3 linked regions of the Homo sapiens genome follow. The protein of the gene in region 1 interacts with the protein of each later gene in a pairwise test. Each region holds a gene or a part of one and is shown on either strand. Other genes may lie near its edges.

Evidence for each region.
Region 2: the proteins of RNF34 (region 1) and PHF7 interact in a two-hybrid assay, tested with the Homo sapiens proteins (one large-scale study listed by BioGRID and IntAct).
Region 3: the proteins of RNF34 (region 1) and UBE2F interact in a two-hybrid assay, tested with the Homo sapiens proteins (one large-scale study listed by BioGRID and IntAct).

Annotation. Positions count from the first base shown.
Region 1 is NC_000012.12:121,406,466-121,410,117, reverse strand, and holds part of RNF34 (E3 ubiquitin-protein ligase RNF34), read right to left. Parts: intron 1,658-3,652; exon of another isoform or gene 1,643-1,657; coding exon of another isoform or gene 1,409-1,642; intron 1-1,408. Other genes in the region: KDM2B (lysine-specific demethylase 2B), read left to right, coding at 1,409-1,642. UniProt on the Homo sapiens protein: E3 ubiquitin-protein ligase that regulates several biological processes through the ubiquitin-mediated proteasomal degradation of various target proteins.
Region 2 is NC_000003.12:52,413,549-52,417,200, forward strand, and holds part of PHF7 (E3 ubiquitin-protein ligase PHF7), read left to right. Parts: intron 1-447; coding exon 448-500; intron 501-947; coding exon 948-1,039; intron 1,040-3,652.
Region 3 is NC_000002.12:237,969,878-237,973,529, forward strand, and holds part of UBE2F (NEDD8-conjugating enzyme UBE2F), read left to right. Parts: intron 1-3,214; 5' UTR 3,215-3,230; coding exon 3,231-3,348; intron 3,349-3,652. UniProt on the Homo sapiens protein: Accepts the ubiquitin-like protein NEDD8 from the UBA3-NAE1 E1 complex and catalyzes its covalent attachment to other proteins. Together with the E3 ubiquitin ligase RNF7/RBX2, specifically neddylates cullin-5 (CUL5).

The sequences.
Region 1 (3,652 bases):
CGATGGCACGATCTTGGCTCACCGCAACCTCTACCTCCCAGGTTCAACCGATTCTGCTGCCTCAGCCTCCTAGTAGCTGGGATTACAGGCATCTGCCACCATGCCCGGCTAATTTTGTATTTTTAGTAGAGGCAGGGTTTCTCCATGTTGGTCAGGCTGGTCTCGAACTCCTGACCTCAGATGATCCGCCCGCCTCGGCTTCCCAAAGTGCTGGGATTACAGGTATGAGCCACCACGCCTGGCCATGAACATAATTTCTTTACATTCATTTTAGCACTGAAGTGCCAGGTAACACCCACCCCCGCTGCCCTTCAGTGAAACAGGTGTTTTAGTCCTGTACCTTCGTAGCTGCTGTCAGTACTTCTTGCTAAGGAATTGCCTAGGGTTGTGAAACTGCCCTTAAGAGAATGGTTTTCAGCCTTGGCTGCATGTTGGACTCACCAGGCAAGTCTTTAAAAATACTGATTCCTGGGGTCCCAGGCCCAGAGGTTCTGATTTCACTGGTCTGTGGTGCAGCCTGGGCACCAGAATTTTTTTGAAAACTCCCTGGGTAATTCTGATATACAGGCCAGGTTAAAAGCTTAAGACCTGCTCAGTCAAAGGGAAGATGTCTTCTTCCTGCCTACACTGTTTCAGCTGGGACATCACCCTCCACAAATTCCTGAGTGGAAAGGGCTGTGGTTACTTTGGAAGCCTGTGGCCCTAGAGTTCTGGAACTAATGCCTCGGCAACATACTCCCCAAGACCTGTCTACATGTTTTTCTGTTGTGGGATATGTAGTATTTTGCATCCCACTTTGGTTTTACCCAATCCTTTAAGAAAGGGTCAGCTAAGTTTTGGCCAAGTGTTGTGGTCCATGCCTATAATCCCAGCAGTTTGGGAGGCCGAGGCCAGCAGGTCACCTGAGGACAGGAGTTTGAGACCAGCCTGGCCAACATGGTAAAACCCCGTCTCTACTAAAAATACAAAAATTAGCCGGGCATGGTGGTGCACGCCTGTGGTCCAAGCTACTCGAGAGGCTGAGGCAGGAGAATCGTTTGAACCTGGGAGGTGGAGGTTGCAGTGAGCAGATATCACGCCACTGTACCACTGCACTCCAGCCTGGGTGACCGAGCAAGACTCCATCTCAAAAAAAAAAAGAAAGGGTCACCTGAGTTTTTAACAATCTGATTCTTCAATGAATCCCTTTCCTTTTTACCACAGATTGGCCTGTAACTTTTGCTGGACTTTGGTGCTCTCCTTGATTTTATTTGCTCTTTGCCTTTGGGCCCCAACTTTTATTTCCCACCTTAACTCCTCTGCACGTTTTCTTGTGTGAAATCTCCCAATATGAGGAGAAAGTCAGTGATTTCTGGGTCTATCAAAAGCAGCCATTGTTCAAAGTGTTTTTGTCCTTCTTCACCTCCAGGATGAAGAATCCATCCAGAAGATAAATCCTTCCAAGCCTGGACTCCATCTACCTGGCTCTCCTTTAGTATGTTTCATCTTCCTGTACTTTCTCATAAATTTCAGAAATTTATTCTGCATGCCTCCTCAGGGCAAAGGCATCTCTACCTACAACTGTCACCTTGACACTCACCTAACAGTGCTTGAAGTGTCCTATACTGATCTTTCCCCTCTTAAATCTGTACACATTTTCTAGTTTTTATTTATTTTTATTTTTATTTTTATTTTTTAGACAGAGTTTCACTCTTGTTACCCAGGCTGGAGTGCGGTGGTATGATCTTGGCTCACTGCAACCTCTGCCTCTTGAGTTCAAGTGATTCTTGTGCCTCAGCCTCCCAAGTAGCTGGGATTACAAGTGCCTGCCATCACACCCTGGTAATTTTTTGTATTTTTAGTAGAGACGGGGTTTCACCATGTTGGCCAGGCTGGTCTCGAACTCCTGACCTCAGGTGATCTGCCTGCCTCAGCCTCCCAAAGTGTTGGGATTACAGGCGTGAGCCACCACACCTGGCCATTTATTTTTATTTTTTTAGAGACGGGGTCTTGATATGCTGCCCAGGCTGATCTCAAACTCCAGGGCTCAAGGGATCCTTCTGCTTCAGCCTCCCAAATCACTGGGATTACAGGCATGAGCTACCACGCTTGGCCCACATTTTCTGTTATGACTTGACAGAACCTATAAAAGCAATTGGAGAACTATTTAAAAGACAATTTCCCCAAGGGTTTATTGAATCTGAGCTCTTACAGTGGAGAGGGGGACAAGGGATGGGGGGAACATATGCCAATCTATTTTCTGAGCTCTTCACACTCTGCCTCTGTTATATTTCCTTGGAACCCAGTTACCATATCCGGTAGGGTCATAACCAACAAGGATCCCTCTTCTGCACCCTCCTTTTAAAAGCTTTAGAGACCTAAGTTCATGTTCTTTCCTGTTCCATTTCTGTCTTCCCTATACTTTAAGATCTTCCTCCAGTTAAATTAGCCTGTATTCCTTTATTTTTCTTTTATTCATTCATTGCTTCCATACTGATAGTAAGATTGAAGCATCTTCTACAAACCACTCCATTTCCTCCTAGATTTTGAGAAAACTCAATTCCTGGAAAGACAGCATACTAGGCGTAGCCCTTGGGCTTCCGAATTTGCAGTCAGTTCACTGAGTTGTTGTATACTAGGCATATGCCTTTGGCTTCTGCATTTGCAGTCAATTCACTGAGTTGTTGTATACTAGGCATACCCCCACCTCTGGCTTCTGACAGTATACTAGGCATACCCTTTTGGCTTCTGAATTTGCAGTCAATTCACTGGCCTCAATTCCAAAGTGGTGCCTTCTTTATGGAAGGGTCACCATCCATTATTTGTTCATTGGGGGAAAAAAACCCTACAGTTACTCCTCCGTGAATAAAGCCCAAAGCCAGATCTCTGAAAAGTCTGGAACTTTCAAAATGCAAGCCATGATCTGGGCTTTCATGACCTACTTGGGGACCTTAGTTGGCAGCAAAACTCCATGGGTTATACCACATGCATCCAAGTGGTATGTAAGAAGTATAACCCTTTTTCTAACAGTTTAGAAAGAACAATAATCTGGGGGGAGGGGGAAGGAGGGAGGAAAGGAACAAGGGGTGAAAAACTAACTGTTGGGTACTGTGTTCACTACCTGCTGGCGGGACCAACTGTACCCCAAACTTTAGCGTCACTCAATATACCCATGTAACAAGTCTGTACGTGTACCCCCAAATCTAAAAGTTGAAATTATATTTTTAAAAAAGAACGATAATCGTGAAGATAGCTAAATTTCCTCTCTTGACCATGAATGTAGTTTAAAACAACATAGAGAATAAGAGAATGAGGCAACTGTCTGCCTATGCCTAGCACAAAACTCCAAGCTCAGAGAATTCACCTGTGTTTGGAGTTTATTTTCTAGTCATCAGTGATTACTAAAAATAAATGACTTGTTCTTGATAGTCTAATCCCTTTCCTACCCACTCTCTTAAGCCAAAGCTGCTCTCAGTAGAGCCACCATAGGACCATGGTCTGCCTGGCTTATATCAGTTAAAAACCAGGTATCGTATTTAAAAACTTAACACCAGCCCGGCGCGGTGGCTCACGCCTGTAATCCTAGCACTTTGGGAGGCTGAAGTGGGCGGATTGCTTGAGCTCAGGAGTTCGAGACCAGCGTGGGCAACGTGGTGAAACGCCATCTCTACTG
Region 2 (3,652 bases), on another chromosome or scaffold:
ATATGGCCAGGTGCAGTGGCTCATGCCTGTAATGTCAGCACTTTGGGAGGCCGAGGCGGGTGGATCACCTGAGGTCAGGAGTTCAAGACCAGCCTGGCCAACATGGTGAAACCCCGTCTCTACTAAAAATATAGAAATTAGCTGGGCGTGGTGACAGGCGCCTGTAATCCCAGCTCCTCGGGAGGCTGAGGCAGGAGAATTGCTTGAACCCAGGAGGCAGAGGTTGCAGTAAGCTGAGATCGCACCACTGCCCTCCAGCCTGGGCAACAGAGCAAGACTCTGTCTCAAAAACATATATATGTGAAATATGAAAAGAAGCTGATGTCTTAGGCTTTAGATATGTTGGTCCTTCATCAGACCCATGAATGGCATTTTAAGAGAAATGTTAAAAAGGTTATCAACAAGATCCCCAAAGAACACCTTGTGCTTCTTATTTCTCTTGTATAGAAAATCTGCCAAGACTAGGAGGGTAACCCAGAGGAAACCGTCTTCAGGGCCTGGTAAGAAAGACTGGAGCTTGTGTTCGCCCACTGCCTCCAGCCCTCAGCAAAGAAGGCCACCTGTGTGGGGCAGTATACTTGCTTCTTCTCTCTCTCCCAGCCCTACTTCCTTCCTAGATTCTCTAAGATCTTGAGGACTCAGGAACTGCCATTTTAAATTACCATGTCTGAAGTTCAAGAAACAAGTTATTAAAGTCACTTTAGAACAAAACAAAACCAAAAAAAAATGAAGTGAGCAGTTGTGGCCAACTTTTTCATTGTAACCAGAATTATGTGACAGACTAATTGATACCACATAAGACCTCATCCCAACCTTCCTCCTTGCCAAAATGACCCTTTTCCTAGTATTCTACTCCTTCCTGACTTAGAGGAATGGTTACATTCTCACCCTTCTCTTCCATTCTTAATGGTCAATTTGAGCCAAATTCTGGGTGTCCTCTCTTCCAGTTTGCTGGCTATGCCTTCGAGAACCTGGGGATCCCGAAAAATTAGGGGAATTTCTTCAGAAAGACAATATCAGCGTGCATTATTTCTGTCTTGTGAGTATGAGGCCTCCTTTGCTTTGAATATCCTATGGCTTTTGGTGTACTGACTGTTCTCTGTTACATTCATCCTCATATCCACAGCCTTGTTTTTTTATTTTTCTTAATAGCTTTTTTGTTTTAAAATCTATTTTTAGGCTGGGTGCAGTGGCTCACGCCTGTAATCCCAGCACTCTGGGAGGCCGAGGCAGGAGGATCTCTTGAACCCAGGAGTTCAAGACCAGCCTGGGCAACCTTGTCTCTACAAAAAAATTAAAAAAAAAAAAAAAAAAGCTGGGTATAGTGACAAATGCCACTCCGGAGGCTAAGGCAAGAGGATCGCTTGAACCCTGGAGGTGGAGGCTGCAGTGAGCAGTGATCACACCACCACACTCCAGCCTGGGTGACAGAGGAAGACCTTGCCTCAAAAAAAGAAAAATATATGTGTCTGGTATAAAATCTTGACAGTATAAAGTAAGTTCAGTAAAAAAGTCTCTTCCCTAAACAATGTTCCCAATCCTTCTCCCTCTCCCCAGAAACAAATGCTGTCAAAGTTGTAACATCCTTCCAATTGCTTTTTCCCAGTATTTTTTTATTAGGTATAACTTTCATACTGTAAAAATCACCAATTTTTTTCTTTTTTTGAGAACGGAGTCTCACTCTCTTGCCCAGGCTAGAGTGCAGTGGCGTGATCCCGGCTCACTGCAACCTCTGCCTCCCTGGTTCAAGTGATTCTCCTGCCTCAGCCTCCCAAGTAGCTGGGATTACAGACACCTACCACCATGCCTGGCTAATTTTGTATTTTTAGTAGAGACAGGTTTCACCGTGTTAGCCAGGCTGGTCTTGAACAAAATTCACTAATTTTAAGGGTCCAGTTTGATAAGTTTTGATAAATGTATGTCCCCAAATAACCACCACCCCAATCAAAATAGGTAATATTTTCATCACCCCAGAAAGTTCCCTCCTGCCTCCTTTTCCAGTCAATCCCACTAGACGTAATCACTGTTCTGATCTATGGATTATTTTTGGCTATTCTTTTACTTCATATAAGTGAAATCATATAGTTTATAATCTTCTGTATCTGGCTTTTTTCTCCCAACACAGTGTTTTGGAGATTCATCCATGTTGTTGCATGCATTCATAGCTTGTGCCTTTTTATTACTTGGTAGTATTCGGTTGCATGAATAAGTTACTATTTGCTTATCTGTTCACCTGTTGATGAACATCTGAATTGTTTCCATTTGAGGACTATTATGAATAAAGCTACTTTAAGCATTCATGTACAAGTCTCTTTGTGAACATGTGCTTTCACTTCTCTTGTGCAGATGCCTAGAAGTGGAATTACTAGTTGTATGCTAATTAGATATTTAACTTTATGTGAGGTTGCCACATCACTGTCCAAAGCGGTTGTACCAGCTTACACTCCTACCAGCAATTTATAAGAAGTCCAGTTGCACAGTATTCTTGCCGGAACTTTGTTTTGTCAGTGTTCTTAATTTTAGCCATTCTACTGGGTGTGTATTGGTATTTCATTGTCGTTTTAATTTCCATTTTTCTGATGACTAAAGCTTCTTTTCATGTGCATATTGGCCATTCACATATTTTCTTTGGTTTTTTGGTTTTTTTTTTTTTTTGAGATGGAGTCTCGCTCTGTCGCCCAGGCTGGAGTGCAGTGGTATGATCTTGGCTCACTGCAGCCTCCACCTCCCGGGTTGGAGCAATTCTCCTGCATCAGCCTCCCAAGTAGCTGGGACTACAGGTGCCTGTCACCACGCATGGCTAATTTTTATATTTTTAGTAGAGACAGGGTTTCACCGTGTTAGCCAGGATGGTCTCGATCTCTTGACCTCGTGATCTGCCCACCTCGGCCTCCCAAAGTGCTGGGATTACAGGCGTGAGCCACCGCGCCTGGCCCGGCCCACATATTTTCGTTTGTTAAGTATCTGTACAAATATTTTTACCCATTTAAAAACACTGAGTGGTGGTCGGGCACAGTGGCTCACGCCTGTAATCCCAGAACTTTGGGAGGCCGAGGCGAGCAGATCAAGAGGTCAGGAGATGGAGACCATCCTGGCTAACACGGTGAAACCCTGTGTCTACTAAAAATAAAAAAATTAGCCGGGCATGGTGGCAGGCGCCTGTAGTCCCAGCTACTCGGGAGGCTGAGGCAGGAGAATGGCGTGAACCCAGGAAGTGGAGCTTGCAGTGAGCCGAGATCACGCCACTGCACTCCAGCCTGGGCGACAGTGCAAGACTCCGTCTCAAAAAAAAAAAAAAAAAATTGAGTGGTTTTATTATTGAGTTGTAGGAATTGCTTATATATTTCAGATACAAATTCTTTTTCAAATATATGTATTGAGACTATTTTCTTCCTAGTCTTTGGCTTGCCTTTTCATTTTCTTAATGGTGTCTTTCAAAGAACAAGTTTGTAATTGTAATGGAGCCCAGTTTATCCATTTTTTTCTTTTATGGTCAGTGCTTTTTGTGTGTTGCAAGAAATCTTTACCTACCCATAGAATTGCCTTGGTGCCTTTGTCAAAATCAATTGACCATATATCTGTGGATCTGGATAATCTATTTATGTCATTGATCTATGTATCTATTCTTACACAAGTCCCCACTGTCTTGATT
Region 3 (3,652 bases), on another chromosome or scaffold:
GGCGAAGCTGTGAAGATGTGCTCTTATGGAGGGCCACCTGAGGAGATGGCACAGTAGCGTAACAATGAAGAAACTAATGTTGGTTTATTTTCACATTTTTGTCAACTTTATTGAGGCGTAATTGAAATACACTAAATTGCCCATATTTAAATTGTGTAATTGATCAGTCTGAAACCATGACCACACTCGAGATAAAAACATTTCCTGCCCGGCATGGTGGCTCACGTCTGTAGTCCCAGCACTTTGGGAGGCTGAGGCAGGTGGATTGCTTCCGCTCAGGAATTCAAGACCAGCCCGGGTAACATGGTGAAACCCTGTCTCTACAAAAAAAATTAAAATTAGCTGGACATGATGGTGCCTGCCTGTAGTCCTAGCTGCTTTAGGAGGTGGAGGGTGCTGAGGTGGGAGGATCTCTTGAACCTGGGAGTTTGAGCCTGCACTGAGCTCAAGTCACGCCACTGCACTCCAGCCTGGGCTACAGAGCAAGACCTGTCTCAAAAAACAAACAAAAAACATTTTTGTCATCCACAAGAGGGAAACTAGTGTGTCTGTGGTGACAGCTTCTAGCAGCTGAGTGGCTTTGGGCAGCCTACCTTCTGGGCCTCTGTTGTCCTGGGGTCCACATGTTAAAATGGAATGGGAGTGAGAGAAGTCCATTCCAACTTTGCAATTCTGAGAGCTTATGACCGTGAAAGTGCAGAGCTGTCTTTGAAACCTTTAGACCAGTGCTTCTTAAGGGGTTTAGGGTATGTGTATGTCCGTGTCCTCTAGTGGAAAAGACTGTGCAGTTCAGAAGATCGTATTCTATGTATTGTTTTCGTTTTGAAAAAATTCTTTAAATTTTTTTATCTTTTGAGATGCGGTTTCACTCTTGTTGCCCAGGCTGGAGTGCAATGGCACAATCACTGCAACCTCCACCTCCCGGGTTCAACCTATTCTTCTGCCTCAGCCTCCTGAGTAGCTGGGATTTACAGGCACCCGCCACCATGCCGAGCTAATTTTTTTTGGTATTTTTAGTGGAGATGGGGTTTTGCCATGTTGGGCAGGCTGGTCTAGAACTCCTGACCTCAGGTGACCCACCTGCCTCGGCCTACCGAAGTGCTGGGATTATAGGCATGAGCCACCATGCCTGGCCTGTACTGTTTTCATGGTACAAACAATAGAAAATAAAATCTGACAGCATTTAGGGGATATGCAGAAGATGGTGTGAGAAACTGTGTAAGAGACCTGGGTGAAAAATGGTTTCAAATGCCAATGAGGAACGGAGTATTCTTATTTGACTTTCAGGATCTTAGCCTCAACCTAAAATTTCTGTGCTTAGGTCAAGCTTTTCACATGGAATTTTTAGATCATTTTCTGTTGAAACGATCAGAGTGGTATTGAAATAAAATGATACGAAAGCAACAAAGGAAATTATGGAAATATTGAACTGGTGACAATTTATTTTGTTTTATTTTATTTTATTTTTTTGAGTCTCACTCTGTTGCCAGGCTGGAGTGCAGTGGTGCAATCTTAGCTCACTGCAACCTCTGCCTCCCGGCTTCAAGTGATTCTCCTGCCTCAGCCTCCCAAGTAGCTGGGACTACAGGTGTGGGCCACCACGCCCGGCTAATTTTTTTGTATTTTAGTAGAGACGGGGTTTCACCATGTTGGCCAGGGTGGTCTCGGTCTCCTGGCCTCATAATCCACCTGTCTCGTTCCCCTAAAGTGTTGGGATTACAGGCATGAGCCACGGCACCTGGCCCTGGTGACAAATATTTGTCCTCAGTCAAAAGAAGTTCCAGTGACCCTCTCTGACCATGGCAAGGAGGACGATTAATGTCAGTTTATGTTAGAAACAGAAGGCAGAGTCTAGCGGATAGTTACTTTGTTACAATTAGTGGGATCATAATGTAAGCTGTGGACTTTGAGTTATAATGTGTTAATGTGGGTTCATTAATTGTAACAAATGTACCCTCTGGTGGGAGATGTTGGTAATAGGGGAAGGATGTGCATGTGTTGGGGCAGGGGGCGTATGGGAAATCTCTGTACCTTCCTGTTAATTTTACTGTATACTTAAAACTGCCATTAAAAAATAAAATCTTAAACAAATTGTGGCATTTCTTCAACCGTCTCCCAGATAGCAAGGGGCATCACCTGTGTTTGGTCTTTGTTGTCCCTACTAGTGAGCTTGCAGCAGGGGAACCTGCAACACAGATGGGGTGGAAGCCACCAATGAACATAATCTACTTTGGGACATTAATTTTAATTTAGTCTTGATGTTGAAATTGCCAAAAAATATAAATAAAACACAAATGTAAGTAAATGCAACACAGCATGAATAAATGAGAAGATGCTTATTAAGGCTCTATCCACACCTTTATTAAAAGAGGAAGGAGAGCAAAGAGTGGTGCTCCTCTTCCACCAGAGGCTGTGCTGCTTCAGTTGGTGATGGGCCAGAACCTGGGACCGTACCATGTGTGTGCATGATCCCCTGCAGCAGGGAAGGGCCAACTTACCAGTGGGCAGTAATGGACTCATGTGGAACCCATTGGTGAGGGCATGCTGGTTGAGAAACTGTGGAGGCCACCCTAGACCTTGTGTTCCACGGGAGCTTTGTCACAACCACATCCCAGGACCTGGCACCCAGTGAGTGTGAAATGCATGACTCTTTTTAATTTTAAATTTTTTTTTTTTTTTTTTTTTTTTTTTGAGACAGGGTCTTGCCGTGTCACACAGGCTGGAGTGCAGTGGCACAATCACGGCTCACGGTATCCCCAATCTCCCAGGCTCAAGGGATCCTCCTACCTCAGCTTCCCGAGTAGCTGAGACTACAGGCACACACCACCACTCCTGGCTAATTTTTTTATATTTTTTGTAGAGACAGGGTTTTGCCATGTTGCCCAGGCTGGTCTTGAGCTCTTAGGCTCAAGCAATCCTCCTACCTTGGCCTCCCAAAGTGCTGGGATTATAGTTGTGAGCCACCGTGCCCAGCCATGACTCTCTTTTTTAAAAAATGTTAATTCATAATTTTAAAAGTTAGGCTTATAGAGGATGGCATAGAGCTTCTCAAATGTATTATGAAGGAATCCAATCTTATTAATGTGTACAAATTTTTTCCATAACTAAATTGTGGGAAAAAATCAAAATACAAAAGCACTTATACATTTTTCTCAGTGTCTAATTAGTCTCTGGAGACCTGGTCCTTAACCCTGCTTTCATTGCTGTCTTTCAGGGTAAAGGCAGCAGTAATGCTAACGCTAGCAAGTAAACTGAAGCGTGACGATGGTCTCAAAGGGTCCCGGACGGCAGCCACAGCGTCCGACTCGACTCGGAGGGTTTCTGTGAGAGACAAATTGCTTGTTAAAGGTAATGATCATTCGTGTGAACTGTTTTTATATCCTATAACAAAAGGAAGTTTGACTGGAGAGTCTTTGGGGATATAAAGCAACCTACTGCTGAATAGAAATACCTGTTTAAAAGATTTTAAAATATAATTGCTTATCTCTTATAGTGAAGGACATTGTACCACGCAGGTGATATGAGCACACTGTTGCAAGGAGATGGTATTAGAAACTGCAGTGTGTCTTATACACTTGGGATGTTCTTTGTCACGTCTGCCAAAATGCTAGCAGAAAGAATAAGGTGCTGAGAGTCAGCAAAGCCTAAGACT